Regions from separate parts of the Homo sapiens genome. Here region 2 is linked to region 1. The links come from fine-mapping of genetic effects on gene expression. A gene starts in region 1. The other region holds a variant in brackets. All regions are shown on one strand. Distances are from middle to middle.

Region 1 (16,542 bases):
GAATCAGCCTTAGCAGAGTTGAACAGCTGTTCCCAGGGAGCGGGAGGCCCCCTCAACCCCCTCCGCATCCAGGCAGGCATTGGTCTCCCCAGAACACACACACTGCCCCCTGCTGGGTAACGCTCAGTCCCTGGCCCACCATGGCTTCATTCCGGCATGGAATCTGAGAAGGACCCGGGGTTCTGATTTCCTTCCTAGGAGCCCCCACCTCAGGCTTCTTCAACTGACTTCTTCAGAGTCAGTTCCCTCAGGGACAGACGAGATCAAATTAACTCTAGTGTGCCCTGGCAGAGCCTTACCTCTGAAGACTGTGGTTTTTCATCCTGCCTCTGGGCATCCCCCTCTGCCCTACTGGACACTGGGAGACAAGATGACGCGAGGAGACAAGATGACACTGGGAGACAAGAAATGGCGAGGAGCTAGGACCGGCTCTCCCTCTCCACCCCCAGCCCAGCCGCAGCACTCTGCACTCATGAACCGCATGGCTCTCTCTGTCTTGCTCAGGGAGCTCTGTGTGCTTCCTCCCATTCATGTTTAAATGGATGATAAACTGCTTTTCTTCTTAGAAAAACAGGAAGAGGGGGCCAGGCACGGTGGCTCATGCCTATAATCCGAGCACTTTGTGAGGCCGAGGTGGGTGGATCACCTGAGGTCAGGAGTTTGAGACCAGCCTGGCCATGGTGGAACCCTGTCTCTACTAAAAATACAAAAACTAGCCAGGTGTGGTGGCGGGCACCTGTAATCCCCAGCTACTCAGGACGCTAAGACAGGAGAATAGCTTGAACTCTGGAAGCAAAGGTTGCAGTGAGCAGATATCGCTCCATTTCACTGCAGCCTGCGCAACAGAGTGAGACTCCATCTCAAAAAATAAAATAAAATAAAATAAATAAAAATAACACACACACACACACAGACACACACAGAGGGATTTTCAATATGAGGTCCACCATGGACGCCATCAGTCCCTGTTCCTCTGCTCCTGGAACACCCAGGCTCAGGCCCACAGGCACCACTGAGCTGTCAGGTAGGATTCTGCTTCCCAGGAGACAAGAGGAGATGCCAGGCCCCGGTGGGAGGCCCTTGGGGGCCCAGCACAGGCCCCATATCACCCCACACAGAGGAGGTTGGGCCCCAAGCCACCTGCCCCAGGAAGGGGCTGATGAGCCAGGGCTTAGGGCCTGGCCTCGGACAGAGACCTCCCCTGTCTCATGACCAGAGACCTCCCCCGTCTCATGACCATTCCTGGCCGCTGAGCCCACGGGTTTGATTTTGCCTTCACGCCTCCTGCGCTCCCCAACAGATGGACTGAGGGCTTGGGATGGAAATCCCTGTACACAATCTACCCCTACCAACCCCTGGCTGCCCTGCCTCTCCCTGGAAGCATGATGTTCCGGTCTCTCCTGAGACTTCCCATCGCAGAAGTCCCTCCACTGGATTTGGAAAAGTGGAACTAATAATAAAAAGGAAGGAGAGAATCAAGCTCTGTGGGTCTGGACTGAGGGCTCCTTACCTTTCTCTTCCCAGGCGATGGTGAGGGTGGATCGTCACAATGGAGGTAAGATAAGTAGGGGAGTAATAGGAAGAAGAACCCCAGGGCAAACACCAAGGTGAGGAAGATATCCAACACCCATGGTGTGGAGCTGGGGGTGTTTAGCGATGAGGGACTAAGTAATTTTAGAGGAAAGGGAAGATTCTCCATGTGAATAGGTGCATTGCTTTCAAGCAACTGAGCTCTGGGCATCCCCGTGGAGGCTAGGGACTGGGGCCCAGGCCTGCATCACAGAGCTGGGCCTTCACATCACAAAGGGCTCCTTTGTTGGGGAGGGGCAGTAGGAGGGGGAGACCGAAGCACAGCCCCTCCCCACCCCCCAAGCCGGGGATCCCTCCACCTTCCCACCTTCCAGATCTCTCCTTCCCGCTAAGTTTTGTCAGTGATAGAACTCAGCCAATTTTCTATTCTTTCTCCCTGGAACACATATTACCTGGTTCCTTTTATCTGTTGGAGTTGGTGGCTTGAGGTTACCTATTTTATGGCCCTTGAAAATCTGAAGTTGACTCTGAAATTTTGGCTATGTACCAGGGATTTTTATTCTCAGAATCTCATTTGTCCTCAACTCCAGCTTTCCCACACAATGTTTTTGTCTTATATCAATCCAGGGACAAAATGTAAAGTTCTTTTACTCTTATTTAGTTTTGCAAATTTTGAATAGTAAGTTTTAAAAAAATTATTTCTATCTCACTTTCCTTTTTTTTTTTTTTTTTTTTTTTTTTTGAGGAGTCTCTCTCTGTCGCCCAGGCTGGAGTGCAGTGGCCTGATCTCGGCTCACTGCAAGCTCCACATCCCGGGTTCAAGCCATTCTCCTGTCTCAGCCTTCTGAGTAGCTGGGACTACAGGCGTCCGCCGCCACCACGCCTGACTAATTTCTTTTTGTATTTTTAGTAGAGACGGGGTTTCCCCGTGTTAGCCAGGATGGTCTTGATCTCCTGACCTCGTGATCCGCCCGCCTCTGCCTCCCAAAGTGCTGGGATTACAGGCGTGAGCCACTGCGCCCAGCCTTCTATCTCACTTTCAATCAAAGGGACCTACCCACATACAATTAAGATTTTTTTAAATTCTATTTATGTACTTATGTGTTTATTTTAAGTTCAGGGGTACATGTGCAGGACATGCAGTTTTCCTTTTTTTTTTTTGAGACAGAGTCTCACTCTGTCGCCCAGGCTGGAGTGCAGTGGCGCGCTCTTGGCTCACTGCAAGCTCTGCCTCCTGGGTTCACGCCATTCTCCTGCCTCAGCCTCCGGAGTAGCTGGGACTACAGGCATCTGCCACCGTGCCTGGCTAATTTTTTGTATTTTTAGTAGAAACGGGGTTTCACCGTGTTAGCCAGGATGGTCTGGATCTCCTGACCTCGTGATCCGCCCGCCTTGGCCTCCTAAAGTGCTGAGATTACAGGCATGAGCCACCGCATGGGGCCTGCTGTCTTATTTTAACGTCTCTCTGGGCTTGATAATTTAAAAGGACTGACATTCCTCTGATAAAAGTTATTTTATTTTCTCATTTTCCATCAATATATCCTGTTCAGTGAAATATCTGTTCATGCCTTTAGCCCATTTTCTAATTGGATTGTTTTTCCTTGTTGTTGTTGTTGACTTTTGAAAACTTTAAACAATATTCTAGATATGACCTCTTTGTCAGATATGGTTTATCAGGTGTGGTTTGCAGTTTTCTCCCAGTTTTTACCTTGTCTTTTTATTAACAGGCTCTTATGCAGGGCAAAAGTTTTAAATTTTGATAACATCCAATTAATAAATTCTTATAATTAATTGTGCTTTTCTGGTGTCATGTCTAATAATTATTCATCAAGTCCTAGGACCTGAAGAATTTATCATTAAATTTCATATTTTTACATTGAGATCTATGATCTTTTTTTTTCTTTTTTTGAGAGGGAGTCTCTCTCTGTCACCCAGGCTGGAGTGCAGTGGCACCATCTCAGCTCACTGCAAGCTCCACCTCCTGGGCTCACGCCATTCTCCTCTCTCAGCCTCCCCAGTAGCTGGGACTACAGGCACCTGCCACCACGCCCAGTTAATTTTTTTGTATTTTTAGTAGAGACGGGGTTTCACCTTGTTAGCCAGGATGGTCTCGATCTCCTGACCTCGTGATCCACCCGCCTTGGCCTCCCAAAGTGCTGGGATTACAGGCGTGAGCCACCACGCCTGGCTGATCCTTTTTTTTTTAAATAAAGACATGAGGTTAGATTGAGGTTCATTGTTTTGTCTATGGTATCTAACTGCTCCAGAACCACTGTACCATTGAATTGATATTGCATCTTTTTCAAAAGTCAGTTGGTTGTACTTGTATGGAAATATTTCTGAGTTCTCAATTCTGTTTTATTGAACTGTCTATACCCCTGCCAATACCACACTGTCTTGATTTCTGTAGCTACGTAAAAAGTTAAAAAATTGGGTAGAATAATTCCTCCCACTTTATTCTTCTATTTCAGACTTGTTTTGTTGAGCTGTATCATAGAAAAAACTATTCGTGACACCTGTTAAAAAATAGTAAGACAAACTTTATTCAGAGGGATTATTGCAATAGATATAGAGATTACTGCAATAGGGTCTTGCAGTAATCTCCAGTTTCCATATATTCAGGTTTCCCTCTGAATAGAAATTTTATAGCCACAGAGCAGGGTGGAGGGGTGGTAGTGTACGGAAAATTACTAATAGGAGGGAATCTGGCTAAACTGACCTCACAGAATTCTTGCTGAAGCCATGCCAGAGTGATCAGATATCACCTGGGGATAGTAGACAATAAGAAAACCAATTAGATATCAATGGTGATCAGATACGAAGATGGAGGATTCTGACTAAATTGCCTTGCTAGGATTCTTACTAATATTGGGCAATTCACAGACAACACAAAAGCCCAAAAGCCAGGGTTTAGTTGACAAGAGAGTTCAAAGGAGCATGGCTAGAGTCTGGTTATGGAGAGAATTTTTGTCAGCTGACTGGGTCTTCCAGAACTGTGTAGAATAAAAATGATGAGCACAGACATATTTTCCTTCTTCCCAAACTGAACAGGAAAGCATTCAGTCTTTTTCATCTTTTAGTTTGACATTAGCTGTAGATTTTTTTCTAACTTAAAAGTTAGAAAGTTTACCTCTGTTCCTAATTCCTGAAAGTTTTTTTTTCATTATAAATGGGTGTTGAATTTTCTCAAATTCTTTTCCTGCATTGATATAATCATGTAATATGCTTATCTTTAGCTTGCTAATGTGGGGGGTTACACAAATTGATTTTTGAATACCAAAACAGCTTTTTATTCCTGGAATAAATATCACTTGTTCATGGTTTGTAGTTATTTTTATATATTGTTGAATTATTTTTGCTATTATTTGGTTGAGAATTTTTCCATCTATATTCATGAAGAATACTGATTTCTTCTTCTTCTGTCTTTAGCTCTGATATCAGAGTAACACTGGCCTCATGAGTTGGAATATCTTTCTATTGTCTTCTTTCTATTCTTTTTTTATTCTGGAAGAGACTGGATATAATTCGTGTTAACCTTTAAATGTTTGTTAGAATTCTCTGATCTAGCTATCCAGGCCTTAAGATTTCTTTTTCAGATATTTCAAATTATGACTTCAGTTCTAGGGCTATTCAACATAACTATTTCATGTAAGAGAGAATTTGTGCTTTTTCAAGAATTAGTGCATTTCATCTATGTTGTGAAATTTATGTTTGTAGAGTTGTTTGTAGTATTCTCTTTATTCTTTTGATTTCGTCATGGTCTACAGTGGTATCTCCTGTTTCATTCTGGATATTGATATTTTGTGTCTCCTCTACAGATTTGTCAATTTTATTAACATTTACAGAACCAGCTTTTGTTTAATCGGTTTTTCTCTATTTTTCTTTTTACATTTTATTGAGTCATCTTCTTATCCTTATTATTTCCTTTCTTTCACTTGCCTTCGGTTTATTTTGCTCTTCTTTTTCTAGTATGTGAGGGAGCTTGGTTATTGCTTTGAAATTTTTTTCTTTTCTAATGTAAGCCCTTAGTGGTATATACATTTTTCTCTCACCACTGATTTAGCCACATCCCACAAATTTTGATATGTTGTGTTTCACTGTCATTCATTTCAATGTATTTTAAAAATTCATTCACTTTCACTTTCATTCATTTCAATGTATTTTAAAAATTTGAGACTTTCTCTCTGAACAATGGATTATTTAGCATGTGTTTTCACGTGTTTGGAGATTTTCCTTTTATCTTCCTGTTATTGATTTCTAGTTTAATTCTATTGTGTTCAGAGAACAAACTGTATGATTTCAGTTGTTTCAAATTTGCTGAGATTTGTTTTATGACCCAGGTTACTTCATATCTTGCTAAATGTCCCATCGACACGAATAAAATGTGTATTCGGCTGCGTTTGCGGTGTTACATAAATGCTGATTAGTTCCTGTTGATTAACAGTGTTGTTGTGTCCACAGAAGCATTGGAGAAAGACTGTAACCTGAGGTGATAGGCTTTGATTGTGTCCTGGCTTAGTATGATGGGACACACCTCTGCTTGCTTCCTTTCCTTTGGACAACCCTCAGCCTCTCAGTCTCTACATGACCTCAACATGGCCGCCCACAGGCCAGAGTGTCTACATGGGCGCCGCCATACTGGCGCCCAGCCTAAGCCGCTGAAACGGGAGCGTGTTTGGCAAAGCGCCATGTTGATTACTGGCAACCTTCAGGCCATGAAGACTGCTGAGCATGCGCAAACCCAGGCAGCGCTGTAAGAAGTACCTCTAGGCCTGGGAGGCATTGAGAAAAAGGAAGTGGGTCCTGTTCTGGTTCTTGCGACTATAGTCACCTCCCGAGGCAAATGACCACTGTCCTGAGAGGACGTGGGTGAGGGGCAGGTGAGTAGAGGGATGGCAGCATCTGTGGACTGAGCAAGAAGAATCTCTGATGTCTGTCCTGAGCCTTCCGGTCAGTGATGGGGTCGGTCAGTGGATGGAATAGTGGAAGTCGGAGCGATCTCTGATGGTGGATCTGAGGGAGGAGTGAGGGGGCACTGAGGGGTCTCTGGTGGTGGATCTGCAGGCGGAGTGAGGACGGACTGGGGGTCTCTGTCTGGTGGTGGATCTGAGGGCGGAGTGAGGGCGGACTGTGGGGTTGTGGGGGAGGATGACTATGGGAACTAAGGAGGGATCTGAGGAGTGTGAATGATGCACATCTTAATTAGTTTCCTCTCTTTTATACGTACCGATCTGTTTATATTTTCGTTTCTGTTTCATTATAATGATATATTTTGCTAAAGATTTAAAGAATATATTACATAGAATTGCATGTTTCCATTTCCATTTTGTTCTCTTTCATATCCAGACTAGTAGCTCCTTTATCATTACGGTTATTATATTTATATATCATTCATTCTTTCTCTATTTAAAAAGAATCAAGCGTCTGAAAGGTTTATCTGTTTCATTGGACATTTTGAAATGTCCAATAAAATACTCCCTACTCTTTTAATATTAATTTTTTTCTCTTTTTCTTTTTAGGTACTTTCTCTTTTTCCCACTTTTTGATGTAATTTGTTGTTCTTTCCCTTATTTTCTTAAGTTTTATGCGGGATACATTTAGGGTTGTAAAGTTTCTTTAAGTACATCTTTATGAAATGCATAAGTTCATTTTGATGTTTCCCTTTGAATCTTAGTTATTTAGGAGAGTTTATTCATTCCCAAATTATTAAAGTATGTTTTAGCTGTTTTTTATTTTATTGTATTGTCAGAAAATGCAGACTATCAAGTCTCAACTTTTAACAATTTATCAAGATTTTCCTTGAAGCCAAGTTACTCAATGAACTTTGTTCAACAGATATAAAAGAAAAATTATATTTTGTTGTATGGACCAAAATTCTCTTTAATTAAGTCTTGCTTGTTGGTATTTTTCAAATCTTTATCTTTCCTAATTTTGATCTACTTGTTTCATATTCTGGAGGAGATACAATAAAAATCACTTTTAATAGTTCATTTTGCAGTTATATGTGCTTTTTTGCTAATTTTATTTGTGCATCTGAGGGATGGGCATACATACACTTAATGGTTAGTGCATTTTTTATCCTTTTTCATGTATTAAGTGGTATTATTATAGGATCCCTTTTTTCAACCAAAAAGAAAAAAGAAAAACACTTTTTAACATCGAATTCCAAGAAAAACACTTTTTAACATCGAATTCCACGTTGATACTCACATTGCCACCCTTGTTTTTACTTTCATTGCATTTGGATGATGTCTTTGCCCAGAGCTTTATTTTGTATCCTATTTGTCTCTGTGTCAGATTACCTATTTGTTTACAATAGATACTTTTGCTTTTTTCAAATCCAATTTATAGTCTCTGTTGATAGAATTTTACATCTCAGTTTAGTGTGATAATGATTTATCTGATTTTATGCCTTCCATTTGATGTTTACTATTTAGCTCTTTTTATTTTCTGCCTTTTCTTTACATAATATTTTCATTGGATTGATGAAATTTCTGCTCATTGTTTCCATTCTGCACCCCATTTTTTCTGTTTTTTTCCTGAGATTATTAGGAATGTTTTATCATAGGGTATTATTAATTTTCTCTTTAGTGGCCTCTTTATCACATTGTCACATTGTCCTTTTTTATAATTATATATCTTTTGCAAGAATTATTGCTAAACAATATTTTCCTATTCAAGATTTATTGTGTGGTTCATTTTACATTTATTTGGACTTCTTCCAGTGTTTCTCTCAAAGATAGAGATACTCTGCAAGTGCTTTTATTTCTGAAAATGTCTCTCTGGCCCTGACAGAGAAGTGGTCTTTTAGATGCTATTTCCGACATCATTTAGCTTTCAGTACTGCAGATGAAGAGTTTTCTTATTTCCTTCATTTTTCCTCTGTAAATAGTCTGGTTTTTCACAATTAGATTTAGAAGTGTTTTCTATTTATAAATTTATTCTATACATGCAAGAATTTCCCCTGATTTGTTCATTGATTGAGTTCCTGTTTGTGTATGTGGAGGAGCTTATAGCCTAGTTGTGTCAGTGGTGGGAGATGTGTATGTGTGCTAAGGCCCCAGTGCAGAAACAGGTGTGCCTAGGATTGGGACTCTTGGGATGGCTGATGGAGATGCATGATCGGTAGTCATACAGGCATAGAGGCCAGTCATGGGGATGTGGGATTGATTGGTAGAGAGCCAGGACCATTAGGGTAGAGGAATTGAAGACTCTGTGATCAGGTATTGTAGGATGAGTGATGCAGGCCTGGCTCAGGGGCAGCAAGGCATGGAAATCAGTGAATCTGAGGTTTCAGTAATGGCTTCTGGGAGTAGTCTCTGGGCACCAATTGACACTTAGAGCAGATTGAAGAGTGGTAGTGAGGAGTTAGGTACCAGGGTTGATGATAACTTGAAGGGCCTGTGAAATCAGATAGTATAATAACGTAATAGAACAGTATATCCTTTGGATATTTTATAAAGTATTTAAGCAATCCACAATTATTGAATATCTAAACATTTCTAATCTTTCTTTTTTATTAACCATGTTATGGTAAAACTTTTGCACTTAAATCTTTGTACAATATGGGATGGGATGATATTTTAATGTGGTAGTTCCAGAAATAAATTTTTGAGTAAGGTGCAAGGGCACTAAATGATGTATGTGTCCATGTGTGACATTGGCACAGTTCCTTCTCTCATGGGTACCTCTACCCATCTGTTTTCTCAGATTTCTGCCCCTTTGTCCGAAGAGCCAAAAATGACCAAGTCCCTGGTGAGTTCTTATTTGTTCATCTGTTTATTTGTTGCTTTCTTTTACTTTTAGTGGATTTTAGGAGACATCTAACAATCCCTATAGTAAGATGACAAGACTAAATAAATAAAAACTAAGATCAGATAAAATGAAGAAGAGACTGTCAGCCCCAAGTCAAGTTTAGAATATATGGTCTTACACAGTCATGAACTTTGAACTGTTAAATTGTCTCTGATCTTCCTGAAAGACATAGCAATAATGGAAATTGGATACATGGTTTATATTAATAAAATTAACAAGTAATTTATTTCATCTGTAGTAAAGATGTCATGGTTCTTGATGTTTGAGGAATTTTTTGATAGATCTTCAGATGGTTAATGACAGAGCAGTCTTCAACAACAACCCTACTGAAAGTGCACTAACAGGCCAGGCGCGGTGGCTCACACCTGTAGTCCCAGCACTTTGGGAGGTCGAGGCAGGTGGATCACATGAGATCAGGAGTTCCAGACCAACCTGGCCAACAAGGTGAAACCCCGTCTGCACTAAAAATACAAAAATTAGCCAGGTGTGGTGGCGGGCGCCTGTAATCCCAGCTACCCAGGAGGCTGAGGCAGGAGAATTGCTTTAACCCAGGAGGCAGAGGTTGCAGTAAGCCGAGATTGCGCCTTTGCACTCCAGCCTGGGCAACAAGAGCGAAACTCTGTCTCAAAAAAAAAAAAAAAAAAGAAAGAAAGAAAGAACGTGCACTAACAGTTTTTCTGTTGCTGTCTTATAGAACAGTGCTTCTGACACTTTACTTGCATTTGAATTCAGATTCTGATTTAGTAGCTATGGGATGGGATATGAGAATTTTTATTTCTCACAAATTTCCACAGAACATCAATGCTCCTTGTCCAAGGACCACCTTCTGAAACAACCTTGAGGTTTTATCGTGAATGGGAGTTGAATTTTGTTAAATGCTATTTCTGTACCAATTGACATGATCATGTGATTTTACTTCTTGAGTCTGTTGGTATGGTAGATTACATTGATTGATTTTTTAATATTGAACCAGCGTTGCATCCATGGAATAAACTCCACTTGGTTGTGGTATATACTTTTTAAATTATTTGTATTTGCTAATATTTTGTTAAGGGTTTTTGTATCATATTTATGAAGGATATCGCTTTTTTTTTTCTTTCTGTCTCTCTTTCTGTTTTTTCTTTTGGTACTATTTCTGGTTTAGGTATCACGATAACCCTGACCTCATAAAATAAGTTGGAATGTGTTCCTTTGTATTGATTATTCTGCCAGAGATTGTGTATAGTTTGTGTTTTCTTTTTCTATACTTTGTCCAGTTTTTGTGTCAGGGAAATCATAGCCTCACACAATAAACTGGGAAGTATGCCCTTCTCTTCTGTTTTCTGGAAAAAACTGTGTAGAATTTATGTTAATTATGTTAATTCTTCAAATATTTGGTAGAATTCTCCAGAGAAACTGTCTGGGCCTAGAGATTTCTTTTTTGGAAGTTTTAAGATTACAAACTCAGTTTCTTTAAGTGTTACAGGGCTATTCACATTGTCTATTTAATATTGAGAGGGTTGTGGTAGTTTGTGTGTTTTTCAGGAACTGGTCCCTTTCATCTAAGTTGTCAAATTTATGTGTGCAGAGCTGTTAGTAGTTGTCTTAGTCAGCTCAGGCTGCCATAACAAAGTACCATAGACTGGGTGGAATAAACAACAAAAATTTATTTTCTCACAGTTCTGGGAGGCTGGAACTGAGAGATCAGGGTGCAAGTATGGTCAGGTTCTGATGAGGGTTCTCTTCTTGGCTTGTAGACGAAAACCAGATTCTCACTATGTGCTCACAGGCCATTCCCTAGTGACCGCCTGCCTGCCTGCCTGCCTGCCTATGGAGAGAGAATCTCTCTCTGTAAGGCCACCTGTCTTATCAGATTAGGACCCCTACCTTGTTTAACCGTAATTACCTCTTAAAAGCCCTATCTCCAAATACAGTTACATTAGGGGTTACAGCCTAAACATACGAATTTTTGGAGGACTGAGAATGTCTTGATTTCCACATTCTCCTGAAGGATATTTTTGCCTGATCCAAAATTCTAAGTTGATAGTTCTTTTGTTTTTTTTTTTAGCACTTGAAAAATGTGCTACTTCCTTCTGGCCTCCAAAGTTTCTGATGAGATATTAGTTAAAACTGCATGTTAATTTTCTATTGCTGCTGAAATAAATTCAAAAATTTAGTTGCTTAAAAATAACTTTTTTTTTTTTACAGTTCTATATTTTAGAAGGCCAACATGGGTCTCACTGAACTAAAACCAAGGTGTCAAGAGGGCAGTATTCCTTTCTACAGGCTGTAAGAAAGAATCTGTTTCTATTTTCTATGACTTTTCTAGCTTCTAGTGGGTGCCCACATTTCACAATTTGTAGCCCTTTCCTCCAACTTCAAAGCCATCAACATTGTATCTCTCTGACCACTCTTTTGTAGTCTCATCTTTCTCTGACTCTCTTTTATTGCCTCTCCTTTAACTTTTTTTTTTTTTTTTTTTTTTGAGGCAGAGATTTGCTCTTGTTGCCCAGGCTGGAGTGCAATGGCGCGATCTCGGCTCACCGCAACCTGAAAGAATCTGTTTCTATTTTCTGACTTTTCTAGCTTCTAGTGGGTGCTCACATTTCAGTTTGTGGCCCTTTCCTCCAACTTCAAAGCCATCAACATTGTATCTCTCTGACCACTCTTTTGTAGTCGCATCTTTCTCTGACTCTCTTTTATTGCCTCTGCTTTAACTTTTTTTTTTTTTTTTTTTTTTTTTTGAGGCAGAGATTTGCTCTTGTTGCCCAGGCTGTAGTGCAATGGCGCGATCTTGGCTCACTGCAACCTCCGCCTTCCGGGTTCCAGCGATTCTCCTGCCTCACCTTTCCGAGTAGCTGGTATTACAGGCATGTGCCACCACGCCCTGCTAATTTTGTATGTTTTAGTAGAGACGGGGTTTCTCCATGTTGGTCAGGCTGGTCTCAAACTCCCAACCTCAGGCGATCCGCCCGCATTGGCCCTCCCAAAGTATTGGGATTACAGGCATGAGCCACCGCGCCTGGCCCTCCTGCTTTAACTTTTAAGCAAATTTGTGATTATATTCAGCCCACCCAGATAATCTAAGATAATTAATCTTCCTATTTTAAGGACAGCCGATTTAGCCACCTAGATTTGATCTGAAACCTGAATTCCCTTTTGCCATGCAACCTAACATATTCACAATTTCTGGGAATTAGGATGTGAACATCTTTGGGGAGCCATGGTTCTTAGTATCTCACATTGTCATTCAAATTGTTTTTCTCCTGTGGGTAATGTGTAGTTTCTCTCTGAATGCTTTCAGCATTCTTTCTTTGTCTGTATTTTTCACAAGTTTCACTATAATTCTTCCTTAGTGTGAATTTCTTTGGTTTTATCCTTTTTGAGATTTGCCCAGCTTCTATCTGTAAGTGTATATCTTTCGGGAAGTTTCAGAAATTTTCATTCATTATTTCTTCAAATACTTGTTCAGCCCCCATCCCTTTCTCTTCTTTTTCTCTTTCTGGAACTCCAATGACACAAATGTTAGATTTTTTGTTATTGTCCCACATGTCTCTGAGGTTCTGTTCCTTTTTTTCTCAGTCTGTTTTCTCTCCATTCTTTAGATTAGATCATTTCTACTTTATTTTCAGGTACTCAGAATATTTCTTCTGTTGCCTCCATTCTTTTGAGCCCATCTATTGAGTTTTTAATATTGGTTATTTTTTAATTCTAAAATTTTCATTTGGTTTTTTCATCTCTTCTCTATTTCTTTGTTGAAGTTTTTTTGTTTCAAGTGTGTTCATATGCTTGTTAAAACATTTTTATGAGGACTACTTTAAAATCCTTATGAAATAATTCTGATAACATACATCACTTCAGTTTTAGTATCGGTTGATTGGTTGTTTCCTTATTCAAGTTGAGATTTTCCTGGTTCTTGGTTTTACAAATGATTTTGTAATGTATTGTGGAAACCTTGGGCATTATGAGACTCTAGATCTTATTTGAGTCCTCTTTTTTAGCAGGCGTCCTCTGGGCCAGTGTGGGAATTGGGGGGCCTTGCTGTACTACTGCCAGGTGGATGTGAATTTGCAGGTTCCCTACTTGAACTCTGTTGACAGTCTGTGGGGAGAGAGACACCTCATTACTGCTAGTTGGGGTTGGCAGTTCAGGCTCCCCAGTAGACCTCTGGTGACATCACCTTGTCTGAAAGGAGAGGGTACCTTGTTTCTGCTCTTCATGCTGTCTTCTCTGATATTGTTAGGTTGGATAGGGCCTCATTACCTCTCAGAGTGATGAAGGTCTTGGGTTTTCATTTGACATCCTCTCACACCACACCTGTCGTGATGGGAAGAGTGTCGCATTACTGCTAGGTAGGAATGGAAGTCCAGCCCTGAGGTGGCTCCCACTGGCATGGCAAGAAAGCTACCCATTACCACTGTGCAGAGATGAAAGTCCCAGCTCCCCAGTTGGCTTTTCTCATACTACCCTATTGCAGTGGAGGGGCATCCCCAGGCAGCCAGGCAAATACAGGAGTCTAGGCTACCCACTGAGTCTTTGCTGATGAGAGATGAATCAAGCCCACAGTTTTTTGTTGTTTTATAATCTGTGGTATTTGGTTGGAGTAGGTTTTGTCTAAAAGTTTTTTATTTTTCTCTGTTGCCCCTTTCCTGGTCTTTTAGCTAGAGAAAACACTTTTTTCCAGGCCTTTTTGTATGCACTTGTTGATGTTTCTGGATTGTAGGTTTTTCGAACACCTGGTCAGAGCTATCTATATGAGGCCGAAAGACACAGAGAGCTTATTACTGTTTACTTCCCTGGTTCCTGAGGCCCCTAGCCAGGGTGCCTATTTTTCTTTACCTTTCAGAGTCTGTATGTTGGTTTGATGGATAATGTCTATGGTTTGTAGATGAACTTAACAGGATGAATAGAGACAAGTGCATCTACTGTATCTTTCCAGGAGTGGAATCCAGTTTATTGAGTTTGAACAGAGGACTTCATATATTAAGCATAGTCTTATACGTTTTGGTCAGTTATAACTGCCTCTTTGTCCTTTGCATTTGAACTTTTAAAAATAAGTATTTCATTTTGAATGTCATGAAAGTTTTACCTATATTTACTTAGTCAAATTGTTCTTTGTGGTTTCTTAGAATAAAACAGTTGTCATCTGCTCTATTCCTCTTCAAATTTCAGCTTCTCAAAGGTAATCACTTTGAACTCAGTTTAGTTATCTTTTGCTGTTTACTTTCATATGTCTAAATAACATGTTTGTATTGGTATTTCTAGGCTTTCAGTTTTAAGCAGTTATCTACAGACAACACAATGGAAAGAAGGAATTAGCTCTCTTTCAGACACTCAGGCCCTTGACACTCACGTACACATTTCTCATGTACCCTCCATCTAATATGGGTATTTTGTTTATTTATTTATTTATTTAGTAGAGATGGGGTTTCACCATGTTGCCCAGGCTGATCTTTGAACTCCTGGGCTCAAGCGATCTGCCCACCTTAGCCTCCCAAAGTGCTGGAATTATAGGCGTGAGCCACTGCGCCCAGCCTAATATGGGTATATCATAATTTGGGGTAAATCAATAGGCTGCATTTTATTATGATGATTATTTTAACAATATTCACAAGTGAGCCATTTACTTTTTATGCAGTGCTTTTTGTTTTACCTGAAATTATAAGTGTCTGGCTTAATCATTTGTTTTGTTTTCCATACATACATGTACAATATATATTATACATATCAGTAATTCATCGCTAGTCTTCCCAGGTATATAAATACCTTCTCAATATATTAAAATATACTAAATAATAACAGTAATATAATATAAACATTAATATAGTGCTTACTATATACCAGGCACTATAAGCATTCTCTATTAACTAATTCAGTCACAACCCCTACGAGTTATTGCTATGGTTTGGATATTTATCCTCTCCAAATCTCATGCTGAAATTTGATCCCCCAACCCAGGCGCGGTGGCTTGTGTGTAATCCCAGCTATTCAGGAAGCCAAGGTAGGAGGATCACTTGAGGCCAGGAATTTGAGATCAGCCTAGGTAATATGGCGAGACCCTGTTTCTTACAAAAATAAATAAATAAAAAGAAATTTTAAAAATAAAAGAGAAGTTTGATCCCAGTGTAGGAGGTGGTAGGGCATAATGGGAAGTGTTTGGGTCATGGGGACAGATCCCTCATGAATAGATTAATGCCCTCTCTGGGGAGGTGGTGAGTTCTCAATCTTATGAGTTCCGTGAGAGTTGGTTGTTGAGAAGAGCTTGCTACCTCCCATTCGCTCTCTCTTTCTTCCTCTTTTGCCATATGATCTCTGCACACACCGGCTTCTCTTCCCCTTCTGCCATGAATGGAAGCAGCTTGAAGGCCCTCCCCAGATGCAGATGCTGATGCCATGCTTCTTGTACAGCCTGCAGAACCATGGGCCAAATAAATGTCTTTTCTTTATAAATTACCCAGGCTCAGGTGTTCTTTTATAGTAACAGTAAACAAAGACAGCTATCTATAATCATTATTCTCATTTTACAGAGGAGGAAAACTGTTACACAGAGAAGGAATTTGCCCAAGATCATACAGCTCCTGAATGATGAAGCCAGGAAAATAAGACCCAGGCCGTTGGCTCTAGATTACATGCTATTCATTTCAGCTCTTTAAAGAAACTCCTCTTGGAGTTGTCGACCTGCTCATAGTTACTCTCTATCCGATACTCAGCTACTGGCATGGGCTGTCCCTTCCACATGATACTAGGAATTGTCCTCATGTTTCTCAAATGTTAGATCTCTTGAGTCTCAAGAAGCTGGGTAAGACATAGAAATGGATTGTCCTGTAGAGTCTCCAGAAGGAGTGCAGCCCAGCAGGACCTATTTTGGACATATGACCTCCAGAATAGTGACAAGTTTGTGTTGTTTTAAGGCCAAAGAATACAGGTGGCCTCTAGAAGCTAGAAAAATCAAGGAAATTGATATTCCTTTAGAACCTCCAGAAGGAATACAGCCCTATTGACACTCAGATACAAGCCCAAGTAAAATTATTTAGGCGTCTCTAAGACTACCCTCACTTATGACAGAAACTGCAAGCTCAGGAGTCTCCAAGACCACCCTCAGTTTCAATAATTCACGAGAAGGACTTACACAACTCAGGAAAGCCATTATACTCATGCTTATAGTTCATTACAGAAAGAGGACGTGGATTAAAATCAGCCAGAGAAGATGTGCTCAGT
Region 2 (16,542 bases), 23 kb after region 1:
AGACTGGATAATTTCTGTTTATCTATCTTACAGGTAACTGAGGTAACTGATTCTTTCCTTTGGATCTCCATTCTGCTGTTGAGATCATCCAGTGAGGTTTTTAATTTCACTTACTGTATTTTTTGGTTCTAAAATTTTCATTTTGTTCCTCCTCATACCTTCTATTTCTTTGCTGAGAATTTATATATTTCCACTTGATTCAACACTATTTACAGCTGCTTGTTGCAACACTTTTAGTTAGCTACTTTAAATCCTTGTCAAATAATTCCAACATCTGATTCATCTGAGTGTTGCTATCTGTTGATGCTCTTTTCTCATTTGATTTCAGATTTTCTTGGTTCTTAAGATGATGAATAATTTTGGCTTTATTCAGGACATTCTGAATATCATGTTATGAGATTCTGTTTTCTCTTCAAATCCTCTATTTTAGCAGTTGTCAACACATTTAGGTTTAGAGTGCATGTCTTGGTCTATTTTTATGGGCTGTATTTCAAATTCAACTTAGTTTTGAAAGTCTTTGCAGTTCTATTTTGGTCTCCCTCATTTTTGTGCTACCCAGAAGCTAATTTGAAACCTGGACAGTATCCCACACCCTAGTTCAGCCCTGAAAGCTTTTTCTATGTTGATTCTGATTCATTTTATATCTGGGCTGCTCGTAGGTGTGCCCAGGTCATCATACATGTATTTAAAGAACCCCTTTTTATAACTTTCTCCATAATCCATCCTCCACTCTCTATTGGAAGAAGGTAGCTACTTCTTCTTTGCTGTCATTCACTTAATTTGGGGTAGGGTTAGCCAATACAGTCTATATAATGCCTGCTGGAGAGGCAAGAGGGGTGCTACCTCTCTTTGAGCTAATGCAGTTGGGATGATTGAGAGAGCTCCACCCCACCATCTTTGGAGTCACATTGTTTGTGAAGAAGGCAAAGGATGCATCTTTTGTAGTTTTCACCTCAAGTATACTGGTTTTTTTTTGTTTGTTTTGTTTTGTTGTTTTTTTTTTTTTTTTGAGATGGAGTCTCGCTCTGTCGCCCAGGCTGGAGTGCACTGGTGTGATCTCAGCTCACTGCAAGCTCCGCCTCCCGGGTTCACGCCATTCTCCTGCCTCAGCCTCTCAAGTAGCTGGGACTACAGGCGCCCGCCACCATGCCCGGCTAATTTTTTGTATTTTTTTAGTAGAGATGGGGTTTCACCATGTTAGCCAGGATGGTCTCGATCTCCTGACCTCGTGATCCACCTGCCTCGGCCTCCCAAAGTGCTGGGATTACAGGCGTGAGCCACCGCGCCTGGCCTCAAGTATATTGTTGTGCAGTAAAGGATTAACTTTGCCCAAAGAGAGGTTTGGCCTTTGCACTCAGCTCCTGGGAGGTAACCTCTAAATCTTTGGAATGTCCTGCAGGCCTTGCTTAGGCCATGCAAGATAGTATATAATGACAGTGTGATTTATGGTGGGAGCTTTGGGCCACACTGAATATTCTATGCCAACATGTGGTTTATAGTGGGGTACCTTTGGCCATGCAATATCAGCTCTGGAGGGGCTGGAGACTAAGATCAGCCACAGTGGGAGTCATTCATGTCCACATGATCAAGTCTCAGTAAAAACTCTGGACATCAAGGCTCAAGTGAACTTCCCCAGTTGGCAATACTCCATGCGTATTATCATCACACATCATTGCTGGGAGAAGTAAGTGCTGTCCATATGACTCCACTGGGAGAAAACCACTGGAAGCTCACACCTGGAACTCTCATTGACACTGCACTAAGCACATCTTCCCTTGGCTGATTTTGATCTGTATCCTTTCATTGTAAAGCCACTATATAACACCATAGCCATGAGTATTATGGCTTTTCTAATTTCTGTGAGTTCTTCTGTGAATTGTGGAACCTGAGGGTGGTCCTGGGGACCCCTGACTTGGAATTGGTGTCAGAAGTACAGGTGATCCTGGGAAATCCCTCTGCTTGCAGTAGGTGTCAGAAGTGAGGGTGTTCTTGGGTACTTCTGAACTTTGTAGGTATGTGTAGTCAAAAGGTCCCATCCTGCATTGCTGCCCTATTTCAAATTATTTGGCTGGAAAATGTATGCTTTGGGGAGGCCTTTTTTGTCTGTGCTCATTGGTTCTTCCAGGTTGCAAGCTCCTCTAGTACTCATTTTGCAATATGTAGGAGCTCCCTCTCTCCCTCTAAGTTCCCTCTAGGGAACTAACTCACTACTGTGTTGTTTTTTAAGTCCTTAGGTTCTACTTTCTTTTCTCCACCAGTGAGTCTTCTGACAGATGCTTTATGTATTTTTCTAGATTTTTAGGTAATTAGCAGGAGGAATTGGGTGGAATGCACTCTTTTTTTTGTTTTGTTTTTTAGAACCAGAAGTCTCAATCCTTGCTTTTAACTTGGATGTTTAATGCATTTACACTTAATGTAATTACTGATATACTTGAATTTATATATACCACCTTACTATTAGTTTTTATTTTATTTTATTTTATTTTTGAGATGGAGTCTTGCTCTGTTGCCCAGGCTGGTGTGCAGTGGTGCAGTCTTGGCTCACTGCAACCTCCACCTCCTGGGTTCACACCATTCTCCTGCCTCAGCCTCCTGAGTAGCTGGGACTACAGGTGCCCACCACCACACCCAGCTAATTTTTTTATATTTTTAGTAGAGACCGGGTTTCACCGTGTTAGCCAGGATGGTCTCGATCTCCTGACCTCATGATCCGCCTGCCTCAGCCTCCCAAAGTGCTGGGATTACAGGTGTGAGCCACCACGCCCGGCCTAGTTTTTATTTGAACTACCTATTTTTTCATTCCTTTCTTGACTTTTTATATTACATAATTTTTTTACTCTTTAATTTTTTCCTTTGTTTACTTGTTATAATTCTTTTACTGTTTGTTACCCCAGATATTAAAACATTCATCTTGAACTTACTATTTTATCTCCTTAATAATGCTAGGATACTTTATAAAACACTTTAATTCTATTTACTGCCTCCCATTTTTGCATTATTATTTCCATTATTTTAAATTTTGCATACATTTTAAACCTCCCAGAATAGTACTGTTACTGTTTTGCATAGTCAATACTTGCAGTTTTGTAAAGAGGTATTTGAAGAGCTTCTTGAATCCTAAGGGTTGATGACATTCATAGCCATTACTTCTTCAAATATTGCTTTTTCCCTGCACTCTCCTCTTTAACTTCTCAGACTCTGATAGGTTATACCTTTTTTACTATGTCACACATATTCCTAATGCTCCTATGTTTTTTTCTTTAAAAAAAAAATCTCTGCTTCAGTTTGGATATTTTCTATTTACTTGTCTTCCATTTCAGAAATTCTGTATTTTGCTGTTAAACCTGCATAAGGACTTCTTAATTTTAGATTTTAGATTTTTCAATTTTTGAACTTTCATTTGATTCTTTATTATAAGAACCAACTCTCTAAAGATAGTCCTCTTTTCATCTAACTCCAATTCTCTGTGTGACTGTTTCTATTGAATTTTTTCCTTCTCTGATTTTGGATATGTGGTCCTATCTTTTTGGATGTGTAGGATTTTTTTGTTTGTTTTAAACACTGTGTATAATAAGTTGTAGGCAGGGCTCATACCTGGGAGGCTGAGGGGGACAGATCACTTGAGCTCAGGAGTCCCAGACCAGCCTGGGCAACATGGCAAAACCCATCTCTACAAAAGATAGACAAATTAGCTGGGCATGGTAGCATGTGCCTGTAGTCCCAGCTACTTGTGGGGCTGAGACAGGAGGATTGCTTGAGCCCAGGTCGAGGCTGCAGTGAGTCGTGTTTGTGCCACTGCACTCCAGCCTGGATGACAGAGCAAGACCCTGTCTCAGAAGAAAAGAAAAAAAAAATCTTTCTCCACAGAGGATTCATCTTTCCTTATGTTAGCAAATGGAGGGAAGGGAGAACACGTACATCCAGTCAGGCACTGTTGATGTTGAAATAAGGCCGGGTTGAAGCTCTGCTAAGACTCACTTTACCTCTGGATCACCCTGGCTCCTGAGAATTTTCAGCTGAGAGCCCTTTTGTCCTCTAAAGACCCTCTTCCTGATAGATGCCCAACTATTTTCTTAACAGATACTAGACTTTTGCTCTGTTCTTCAAAGGCTGTTTGCTTACATTTTTAGTCTACTGCCCTATATACCCTAGAATTCAGCAAATATCCTGAGGGGAAAATGGCCATGTGTTTGAGTTATGTTGGTTTCTCTGTCACCCAGCTGCAGCCTTCTACTGCATTCTCCAGTAGACAGGACAAAATGAGAATCCAGGACAAAAGCTGGATTCTCAGCTTTTGTCCACAGCCAGAATTGGTAAATGCTCCCACTGTCAGAGTGACTGAATAAGTCAGCTTCAATCTTTAATATTCTCTCCTCTCCAGTCTTAGCCCCTATATTTCTTGCTACCTCAGCAGCTTTCCAGTGCTTTGAAACAGATGATTTCAAGTATTGCGTCTGGCATTTACAGTTCATTGTTGAAGGAAGCACTGGACTGCCAAGCTACTGCATCTCATCTGGAAATGGCAGTGCTGAAAAAGAGCCCTCTCCTTCATACACCACACAGTTTACCATTTAAAGTGTACCATATTAGGCTGGGTGTCGTGGCTCATGCCTGTAATCCCAGCACTTTGGGAGGCTGAGGCGGGCGGATCACGAGGTCAGGAGATCGAGACCATCCTGGCTAACACGGTGAAACCCCGTCTCTACTAAAAAAATTTTTAAAAATTAGCTGGGCGTGGTGGCGGGCGCCTGTAGTCCCAGCTACTCAGGAGGCTGAGGCAGGAGAATGGCGTGAACCCAGGAGGCAGAGCTTGCGGTGAGTGGAGATCGAGCCACTGCACTCCAGCCTGGGCGACTGAGCGAGACTCTGTCTCAAAAAAAAAGTGTACCATGTATTGATTTTTAGTGTATTCACTCAGTTGTACAGCCATCATTATAATCAATTTTAGACATTTTCTTTATCATCCAGATGGGTGTGAGGTAATATCTTGTAGTTTTAATTTGCATTTCCCTAGTGATTAATGACGTTGAGCATCTTTACATGTGCTTGTTAAATATTTGTATATCTTCCTTGCAGAAATGTCTATTTAAGCTTTTTACCCATTTTTAAAATTATTTTGTTCGTTGTCGTTGAATTGTAGAAGTTCTTTATAGTATATTGTATCACATTAAAAATAAGGTCCTATCTTGTTTCCATTCTGTAATCTCGATCCTTCACATTGAAAGGTTTTTTTTTTTGAATTCAAATATATTCTTTAAAAAATTATTTTAAAGTTTGTTTTTTTTTTTTAACAGGAATCAGTGTCATTCAAGGACGTAACTGTAGACTTCAGTAGGGATGAGTGGCAACAATTAGACCTTGCTCAGAAAAGCCTGTACAGAGAAGTGATGCTGGAAAACTATTTCAACTTGATCTCAGTGGGTAAGCACGGCTCTGCTGGGTATAGAGTAGGCTGCACCTAATTGAGTATATTTTTCTTCTCAGTAGAATTGCTGAAGTCTGTGTTTTCTGAGGTATGTGGGACTTCTAAAGACTGCAGGACATCTAAAGTGTGTAATGGTTTTGTCCTTATTTTGTCCCATGTTCTTAATAATCTCTTTCGGGTAGTGTGAATATTCCTCTGTTCCCAGTGAACTTTTTTGGGAAAAAAATGGAATGCTTCATTGTATGGCCTCTGAAATCAAGTCCTCTATCATCCCCTGTTAACAGGATGTCAAGTTCCCAAACCAGAAGTCATCTTCAGCTTGGAACAAGAAGAGCCATGTATGTTGGATGGTGAGATCCCCAGTCAGAGCCGTCCAGGTGAGAAGGGAACCAAGAGCATGGTAGACAGTATGACTCAGCTGCATTTGTACTGGGAGAAGCTGTGCCCAACTTTGCCCAACTTTGATGTGTCATTAATAATGACTTTTAGAACTGCTTGGAAGAGCAGTTATTAGACAAGGACCCTTGGATAGCTAAATGCTAACCCCACTTAAGATCCCTTCTCATATCAATGCCTTCTTCTTTGCTTGGCTTTTTAGGAGGGAATATGCTACAATTACTGGTTCTTTGGATCATGTCACACTCTACTTTCTAGGGTCCTGTTTTCTTGCTTTTTTCTCTCTTTCCCTAGAAAAGTTTTATTCTTTCTACCTCCATCAAGGTCTTAGATCATTTCCTTATGCATTCAAATACTCATAGATCTACCTTCTGAAAACATTACTATGCATTACAACTTCAGCTCCTGCTGTTTCTTCTCATTTTGTCTCTTTCCCCTTAGTGCCTCACAATTGTCATCTAGAGATGGGCTTGTCTGAAGTCCCCCCATGCCTCTTCTCTGATTGTTGACTTTGAGAGTACCATTGACATTTTCTTCCTACTTGGCTAGTGCAACGCAACACTGACTTGATCTTTCTAATTTATTTATTTTCATATCTTACACAAAGTTTTTTATCTAGTGTACAGGTATATCCTGTACAGAAGATTGAGTTAATAATTATAGCCTTAGTTTTTAGTCAATATCATCATCAATGTGTTTAAGGCTCCCCTCTTATTTATTCTTTTTAATCCTCAGTCTCCATACTCATTTTTATCCTTCCAAGAGGCAACTGTTCTAATATATTTGACATGTTATGCCATTTATCCTTGAATTTCTGGGATATTTATAAAATCTGAGTTGTTGGCATTGTTAATTTGTAGAAATGGTACTGTATTATATATCCTACTCAAGTTTTTTTTTCTCAAATTGGTCCATGTTGCAGTGCATTATTCTAATTTCTACATATCATTCTGTAGTGCACATATATACCCCATTTTACTTGTCCAGTTTTTCAGCTACTACAAACAGTACTGCAATACATTTCTTCATGAATTATTCTTACTGGAAATGATAATTTATTTATTTATTTTTTTCTGAGATGGAGTTTCGCTCTGTCCCCCAGGCTGGAGTGCAGTGGCATGATCTCAGCTCACTGCAAGCTCCACCTCCCAGGTTCACGCCATTCTCCTGCCTCAGCCTCCCCGGTAGCTGGGACTACAGGCGCCCGCCACTGCACCCAGCTAATTTTTTGTATGTTTAGTAGAGACGGGGTTTCACCATGTTAGCCAGGATGGTCTCGATCTCCTGACCTCGTGATCCACCCGCCTTGGACTCCCAAAGTGCTGAGATTATAGGCGGGAGCCACCACGCCCAGCCGGAAATGAGAATTTCTTAAGGAAGAGGAGTGGGATTGCTTTATCATTGGGCATACTAATATTGAATATGATGAGGTATAAGCACATTATTTTCCAGATTGGCTGTGTCACTCTACGGTCCCTGGAACTTTGTACAAGGGTATTAGTTCCCCACATCCCTACCCATACCTAGTATTATCCAAATTTTTAATATTTTGGCTAATCTGATGGGTTTTAATTTCTAATTATTATTTAATTTGTATTTCCCTAATAAAATACTTTGAACATCTCATTCTGTATCCTTCATTTTTGATGTTCAACTGCTGATGTTTTCTAAGCCTCATCTCTCTCTCTTTTTTTCCTGGACAAACTGAGAAAAAAGCCCATGAGTTCCCTCCATTGTTGCTGGGAAATTCCAACTACATAAGGGAATAGTTAGCCCAGCCCCACCCGCCCCTGCCATAAACTCCCAAGACAGTCCTTTCCTTGCTCACTCTAGCCCCATCTGGACCTGCTTGGAGCTGTCCCCAGAAAGCCTCATTATGTGA[G/A]TAACAAATCTTTTTACACCCTCTTATTGTGTGTGTCTCATCGTCACTCTTGACATCTGAACCAAGTTTGGGGTGGGGTCCATTTCTCCTTGCAGGTCATTTACAGCTGGGGCAATAAGCAGGATGTCAAGGCAATGACCACCCCCACAGGGGTCTTTCTCCTCTTCCCAACTGGTTATACTGCCTGCTGGCAAGTATGCACTTTGCCTCTGTCCTATACATAACTAACCTACATTAGAAGTTATCATGGACATTTAGAGGCAGGTGTAAGGGCTTTGGGCCCTCCTTAAAGTTGCCCAGGTCCATGTGTCTCAGCCCAGCATAATCTGTGTCTTAGATTATGTGTCTCAGCTGCAGCATAAGCTCTGAGTGATAATTGGCTCATGGGAACAACTTTTACTCTGTGACTGTTATTTGTGTGTCTCAGTCAGGCATTGGCCCTATTGTATACAGCACTCAGGGGAAAGACCAATACTGTTTGCATTTAAGGGTCTGGCTGTTTGTGTGAAGGAAGACAAGATACAATGTAGCATGTAAAAGCAGGTGGCTTGCCTTTCAAAATGTTGTCATCTTCTCTTGGAGTTTTTTTACTTTTCCCTCTAATCCATCTTCTCAGATAATTCATTCTGCTTTTCTACTTATTTTTCTCATTTACAAAAGCCTCTTTCTTACCTCCCAGTCATATCACCTACAACCATGTCTGTGTTTTCTCATGCCTAGATTATTCTAATCCTATTTGTATGTGATAATCCCATTCTTTCTTTTTCACTATTTCATCTCAGATGCTGCTGATAGATTTCACTACTTAAAACATTGTGTGCTGTGTTTATCCTGTCATAGCTACATGGAAGAAAACTAAAGTTACTACTTAATATCTAACATGTGACAGATTCTCCTCTCAGTAGGTTTGTAAGCTAGAGAAAGAATATGGCCTCATATTTGCAATTCACATTTGTCCCTGTTTTCTATAACCATTTCTATCCTATTTTAAGATTTTCTTTAATTCTCCCTTTTCATCGAGCCCTTTGATTATTATGTTATCTATCTGCGTATTCAAATAATACACATATTTTGGCTGGGCACAGTGGCTCACGCCTGTAATCCCACCACTTTGGGAGGCTGAGGTGGGTGGATTACCTGAGGTCAGGAGTTTGAGACTAGCCTGGCCAACATGGCGAAACCCCATCTCTACTAAAAGTATGAAAATTAGCCAGGCGAGGTGGCAGGGGCCTGTAATCCCAGCTACTCAGGAGGCTGAGGCAGGAGAATCACTTGATCCCAGGAGGTGGAGGTTGCAGTGAGCTGAGACCGCGCCACTGTACTCCAGCCTGGGTGACAAGAACGACACTCCGTCTCAAAAAAAAAAAAAAAAAAAAAAAAGGCTGGGCGTGGTGGCTCACGCCTGTAATCCCAGCACTTTAGGCTGAGGCAGGTGGATCACAAGGTCAATTAGCCAGGCATAGTGGCAGGCGCCTGTAGTCCCAGCTACTTGGGAGGCTGAGGCAGGAGAATGGTGTGAACCCAGGAGGCGGAGCTTGCAGTGAGCCGAGATCGTGCCACTGCACTCCAGCCTGGGCAACAAAGTGAGACTCTATCTCAGAAAACAAAAACAAAAACAAAAACAAACAAAAAACCAAATAATACACATATTTTGTGCTCAGCTTTCACTTACTCCTTGAATTTGACCTATTGCAGCATACAACCTCCAGAAATTCAGAGAAACCTACATTAAATTACATGATAACTGAGGCTTTTACTCTTGTACATTAAAATGCAAAGTTTCTGTAGAAAATAGTGAAATTAAATTCCTGAATTTGTGTTATAAGCAGAGGAGGTCGTTTTGCTCTATTTCAGAAAGATTTTAAAATTTTTCTTTTAGGAGCAATTCAAAGGGCTAGAAAAACTAATTGGAAAGAGGATAACTGCATGAAATCTTGAAAATTTCAGTCTTTGTGCATTACACTTTTGTTAACGTGCACATCTATGCCAATTCAAATATAAATATGAGTGGTTCAGAGTACCTTTTTGTTGTTTGTTTTTAAGTTAAAAGAGAGCCTCTCTAGAGTTGTGGTGAAATTTGAAATTAGCTTTTAAAGCAGAGAACCCCAAATGATTAATGAAGAACAATGAATTTTTGATAGAAACAAAAGATCAGAAAAAGGAAGCTTAAATGGAGAAAATGAAAAGACTGTATGTTTGGGTTCATTGATAAAATAGACTGCAGTGACTAATGGAAAGATGTGTGTTAGTCCCTTTTCGATGGCCATAACACCGGGCAACTCTGTTTCCATGGCCGTTCAGGGACAAAGTTTCTAGAAAGTCATTGTACCACCATCCCCTAGGGCAAGGGCTGACAAATTTTTTGTAAAGGCACAAAAGTAAATAGGCTTTGTGGACCATATGGCTACTGTCACAACTGCTTATTTCTGCAGTTGTAGCCCCAAAGCAGCTATAGACAATACATCAATGTATGGGTGTGGCTGTGTTCCAATAAAAACTTTATGGACACTGAAATTTGAATTTCATATAATTTTCATATGTCGTGAAGTAGTATTCTTCTTTTAATTTTTTGACCATTTAAAAATGTAAAATACATTGTTAGCTTTTGGATAGAGGCCTGGATTTGGCCCAAGGGCTTCAGTTTTCTGACCCCTGCCCTAGGGCATTGCCAGCTTCATAGAACTGGGTGCTGCCAAGTTGGAATATACTGGTGGGAAAAGAAGAGGTTTGTAGGAGACAAACCCACTTTCTTAAGACATTGGCCTTATCACTTCCACTGATGAGTGAAAAAGAGTTACTCAGTGCCACCTAGTGACAAATGAAGCTGAACAAACCTAGTGTTGTGAAGCAGCCATGTGCTTGGCTACAAGCTTAATATTGTGAAGGAAGGGCACAGGTTTGATGAACAACTTTCAGTCTTCTCTTCTGATGTCTAGTTCTTTCCTGTTATGTCTTCTACCAGATGCATTTATCACATCAGTACCCCAAACCAGGGATGAAGAATTGAACCATAGGCCAGACACGGTGGCTCACACCTGTAATCCCAGCACTTTGGGAGGCTGAGGCAGGCAGATCACTTGAGGTCAGGAGTTTGAGACCAGCCTGGCCAACATGGTGAAACCCCATCTCTACTAAAAATACAAAAATTTGTATTTTTACAAATACATGTATGGCGGCACATGTCTGTAGTCCCACCTGCTCATGTGGCTAAGGCAGGAGAATTGCTTGAACCCGGGAGGCGGAGGTTGCAGTGAGCCGAGATCGCGCCATTGCACTCCAGCCACTCCAGCCTGGGTGATAGAGTGAGGCTCCATCTCAAAAGAAAATAGACCAATTGTTACATAGAGTTGATTCAAGGAAAACACAGATAAATGAGAGAGGCTATATAAATATAACAAATGTATATAAATTTTTCTGTTTGGCCAAGTTAGGATGACTAAGATATCGTAATTTTACTGTAAACATAAATACATTGGTATTTAGGGCACAGTGGATCATAGGGAGAAGAGAAAACAGGAAGATTGTGAGGATTTACAGATTAAGGAAAAGAATCTAGACTCAGAAATACTTCTTTTCACAGAGTTTATCACTTTGTTCTTCTGACACCTCACTCACCATGTAGTTCTACTACATTTGCACTGAATTGCAATCTCTTCTTCCCCAATTACTAAACATTTGATTTGGGCAAATTTAACTAAACTCTTCTGTGGCTCAGTTTCCTCATCTGTAAACTAGAAACAATAATAATACCAACAGCAAAGGGTTACAATAAAGTGCTTTTTGTTTTTGTTTTTAAGAGACAGGGTCTTGGCTGGGCTTGCTGGCTTACGCCTGTAATCCCAACATTTTGGGAGGCCGAGGCGGACAGATACTTGAAGTCAGGAGTTTGAGACCAGCCTGGCCAACATGGTGAATCCCCGTCTCTACTAAAAATACAAAAATTAGCCAGTTGTGGTGGCATATGCCTGTAGTTCCAGCCACTCATGAGGCTGAGGCACAAGAATCCCTTGAACTCAGGAGGTGGAGGTTGCAGTGAGCTCTGATCATGCCATTACACTCTAGCCTGAGCAACAGAGTGAGACCCTGTCTTAAAAAAGAAAAAAAAAAAAGAGAGAGAGAGAGACAGAGTCTCACTCTGTCACCCAGGCTGGAGTGTAATGGTGCGATCAGAGCTCACTGCAGCTTCAAACACCTGGGCTCAAGTGATCCTCCTGCTTCAGCCTCCTAAGTAGCTGGGACTATAGGCATGTGCCACTAGGCCCAGCTAATTGTTTTTTCATTTTTCTGTAGAGATGGGGGTCTCACTATGTTTCCCAGGCTGGTCTCAAACTCCTGGGCTCAAGCAATCCTCTCATCTCAGCCTCCCACAGTGCTGGGATTACAGGCATGAACCACCACACCGGGCCGTGATAAAGTTTAAGTGAATTAATATAGAACTTAGAACAGCACATCTAAATGATATTGTTTATCATGTTATAAATGTTAGTATTAATATTATTACTCTACATCATTGTATTACATATTATATATAAATGAGTTATTATACCTATATATTTATGTATATTTAAAATACTTATGTACATTTGTTATATTTATATAGTCTCTCTCATATCTCTGTGTCTGCCTTGAATCAACTCTTTTTTTTTTGGAGATAGAGTTTCGCTCTTGTTGCCCAGGCTGGAGTGCAATGGCAAGATCTCGGCTCACCGCAACCTCTGCCTCCTGGGTTCAAGTGATTCTCCTGCCTCAGCCTCCTGAGTAGCTAGGATTACAGGCATGCACCACCATGTCCGGCTAATTTTGTATTTTTAGTAGAGATGAGGTTTCTCCATGTTGGCCAGGCTGGTCTTCAACTCCTGACCTCAGGTGATCCGCCTGCCTCAGCCTCCCAAAGTGCTGGGCTTACAGGCGTGAGCCACCACACCCGGCCTGAATCAAAGGTCTATTGTATTTTTATTTATTTATTTATTTATTTATTTATTTATTTATTTATTTATTTTGGAGACAGAGTCTTGCTCTGTCACCCAGACTAGAGTGCAATGGCGCAATTTCAGCTCACTGCAACCTCTGCCTTCAAGCCATCAAGCCATTCTCTTGCCTCAGCCACTTGAGTAGCTGGAATTACAGGCATGTACCACCACGCCTGGCTAATTTTTAGTAGAGACAATATTTTGAGTGTTTTTTAGCAGAGACAGAGTTTTGCTATGCTGGCCAGGCTGGTCTCAAACTCCTGGCCTCAAGTGATCTGCCCACCTCAGCCTCCCAAAGTGCTAGGATTACAGGCATGAGCCACCGCACCTGGCCTTATTTTCTGTTAATTGTTCTTTTTGTCAGTCTTATCTTTTCTTTCTTTTTTAGATGGGGACATTGGTTTTGGACCTTTACAACAGAGGATGTCTGAAGAAGTTTCTTTCCAGTCTGAGATTAATATTAATCTCTTCACAAGAGATGACCCATATTCCATTTTAGAAGAATTGTGGAAAGACGATGAACACACAAGAAAATGTGGAGAAAACCAGAACAAACCTTTAAGTCGTGTTGTCTTCATTAACAAGAAAACACTAGCTAATGACAGCATCTTTGAATATAAGGACATTGGGGAAATAGTTCATGTAAACACACACCTGGTTTCCTCAAGAAAAAGACCCCATAACTGTAACTCGTGTGGAAAGAATTTGGAGCCTATCATAACCTTATATAATAGAAACAATGCAACAGAAAATTCTGATAAGACTATTGGAGATGGTGATATTTTCACTCATTTGAATTCTCATACAGAAGTGACTGCTTGTGAATGTAACCAATGTGGGAAACCTCTGCATCATAAGCAAGCTCTCATTCAACAACAGAAAATTCATACTAGAGAGAGCCTCTATTTGTTTTCTGACTACGTAAATGTTTTCTCCCCGAAGTCACATGCCTTTGCACATGAGAGTATTTGTGCTGAAGAAAAGCAGCATGAATGCCATGAATGTGAGGCAGTCTTCACTCAGAAGTCCCAGCTTGATGGCAGTCAGAGGGTTTATGCAGGAATATGCACTGAATATGAGAAGGATTTTTCCCTCAAGTCAAACCGTCAGAAAACTCCTTATGAGGGGAATTACTATAAATGCAGTGACTATGGAAGAGCCTTTATCCAGAAGTCAGATCTGTTCAGATGCCAGAGAATTCATTCTGGAGAAAAACCTTATGAGTACAGTGAATGTGAGAAAAACCTCCCTCAGAATTCAAACCTTAATATACATAAAAAAATTCATACTGGAGGGAAACACTTTGAATGTACTGAATGTGGAAAAGCTTTCACAAGGAAATCAACACTAAGTATGCATCAGAAAATCCATACAGGAGAAAAACCTTATGTATGTACTGAATGTGGGAAGGCCTTTATCCGGAAGTCACATTTTATCACACATGAAAGAATTCATACTGGAGAAAAACCCTATGAATGCAGTGACTGTGGGAAATCCTTTATTAAAAAATCACAACTCCATGTGCATCAGCGAATTCACACAGGAGAGAATCCCTTTATATGTTCAGAATGTGGGAAGGTCTTCACTCACAAGACAAATCTCATTATACACCAGAAAATTCATACAGGAGAAAGACCCTATATATGTACTGTGTGTGGTAAGGCCTTTACTGACAGGTCAAATCTCATTAAGCACCAAAAAATTCATACTGGAGAGAAACCTTATAAATGCAGCGACTGTGGAAAATCATTCACCTGGAAGTCTCGGCTCAGGATACATCAGAAGTGTCATACTGGAGAGAGACATTATGAATGCAGTGAATGTGGGAAAGCATTCATTCAGAAGTCAACATTAAGTATGCACCAGAGAATTCATAGAGGGGAAAAACCATATGTTTGCACTGAATGTGGTAAGGCCTTCTTCCACAAATCCCATTTTATTACACATGAGAGAATTCATACTGGAGAGAAACCCTATGAATGCAGTATTTGTGGGAAATCCTTCACTAAGAAATCACAGCTCCACGTACATCAGCAGATTCACACAGGAGAGAAACCCTATAGGTGTGCTGAATGTGGAAAGGCTTTTACTGACAGATCAAATCTCTTTACACACCAGAAAATTCACACTGGAGAGAAACCTTATAAATGTAGTGACTGTGGGAAAGCCTTCACTAGGAAGTCAGGTCTCCATATACATCAGCAATCCCATACTGGAGAAAGGCATTATGAGTGCAGTGAATGTGGGAAAGCCTTTGCAAGAAAATCAACACTAATTATGCATCAGAGAATTCATACAGGAGAGAAACCCTATATTTGTAATGAATGTGGGAAATCCTTCATCCAGAAGTCACACTTAAATAGACACAGGAGAATTCATACTGGAGAGAAACCCTATGAATGCAGTGACTGTGGCAAGTCTTTCATTAAGAAATCACAACTCCATGAGCATCATCGAATTCACACAGGAGAGAAACCATATATATGTGCTGAGTGTGGAAAGGCCTTCACCATCAGATCAAATCTTATTAAACACCAGAAAATTCATACTAAACAGAAACCCTATAAGTGCAGTGACTTGGGGAAAGCCTTAAACTGGAAGCCACAACTCAGTATGCCTCAGAAATCTGACAATGGGGAAGTAGAGTGCTCCATGCCACAATTATGGTGTGGGGACTCAGAAGGTGACCAAGGCCAACTTTCTTCTATCTAGTTAGAATTATGAACATCTGGATCATATAGCTGATGTGTAGTTACACATATGGGGAGACACTTTTGAGAGTGTTTAAGCAATGTATAGTGGCCATCTTTGGTTACTTGATATTGGTGTTGTCAAGCTCCTGCAAATAATAGTAAATGTGCAAGGAGATGATTGGCAGTCTTTCTTGTTTCACTTTTTGGGCAAACAGTTTTATAAATTCATGGCTGTTGAGTTTTTCATGTTCTGGGTACCACAACTATTCAATATTGACCCGCAAAAATTCATAATGAGTAGTATGATGAGATAATTTTACATTGTCTAAGCAGCCTAAGGACACTGAGATCAAGGCAAAGAGAGGGCAATTTAGGTCTATAATGAAAGTGAATCAGCAGTTTTTGTGAAAACACTAAAGACAGAAAGAAAGGACTCTACTTTTTTTAAAATTTTCTTTGGGAAGTCACCATTATTTATTGTTATATCTGTTGGCGTATGCTGGGGCAGCAGTTAGCCAAGAGGTCTGAAATTGCTCTTTGCCTATTTCTCAAAAGTCTATATTATTACCTTAGAACTGGCCCTACGATCATGGAACTTAGATACAGGGACCCAGGTCTAGATAGCAGCACTTTAGATCCTCAGCTTTCACCACAGAAACCTGCACTTTTTTGATGTTGTTGTTACCAACTCCTGTTTGAAAAATAGGACAAATTAAGAAAATGGATATCAAATCCTAAAATTTTTTCCCACTAATTTTGTTAGTACATTCTCTACATGTTCGTTACTTGCTAGATTACCATGAGACACAAGCATCTTGAATTTTAGTTTGTGTCCTTAGAAGATAAAATGTAGTTGAACATTTGGAAGACTTCTCCTTTTATCTCCTCACAATCTCTACAAACTAATCTTAATTAATTTTGTTTTTCAAATTCTCTGTATTTGAATAGACTTTTTTGTCTTTTCTTCTATCAAATACTGAAAGAACTGTGTTGTAATTTTACAAATAATTGTGAATTTGTCTCCTTTAGAGCTACTAATTTTTGCTTTATATATTTTGTCTTTGATTTTACATACAATTTAGAATTGTTGTAATCTTCCTGGTTAATTGACACATTATCATTATTAGATGTTTCTTTTTATCTCTAGTAATTTTTTGCCTTAAATGTACTATGTCA

Evidence for each region. PIP is the estimated chance that this variant, and not a neighbour inherited with it, causes the effect.
Region 2: its variant is fine-mapped to the expression of ZNF484 in whole blood (TOPMed, PIP above 0.99).

Annotation. Positions count from the first base shown.
Region 1 is chr9:92,867,758-92,884,299 of GRCh38, reverse strand. ZNF484 (zinc finger protein 484) reads left to right here and starts at 6,262. Exons shown (of 5, transcript NM_031486.4): 1 at 6,262-6,410; 2 at 9,241-9,285. The coding sequence starts at 9,271. It also overlaps the pseudogene SPATA31B2P. RefSeq lists enhancers at 649-1,165, 1,166-1,683, 6,019-6,458, 5,972-6,507.
Region 2 is chr9:92,845,071-92,861,612 of GRCh38, reverse strand. ZNF484 (zinc finger protein 484) reads left to right here. Exons shown (of 5, transcript NM_031486.4): 3 at 5,295-5,421; 4 at 5,710-5,802; 5 at 13,062-16,542. The coding sequence ends at 15,385. Among named protein-coding and RNA genes, the nearest start is that of ZNF484, 25 kb to the left of the region's middle. The variant G/A (reference allele first, on the strand shown) is at 7,704.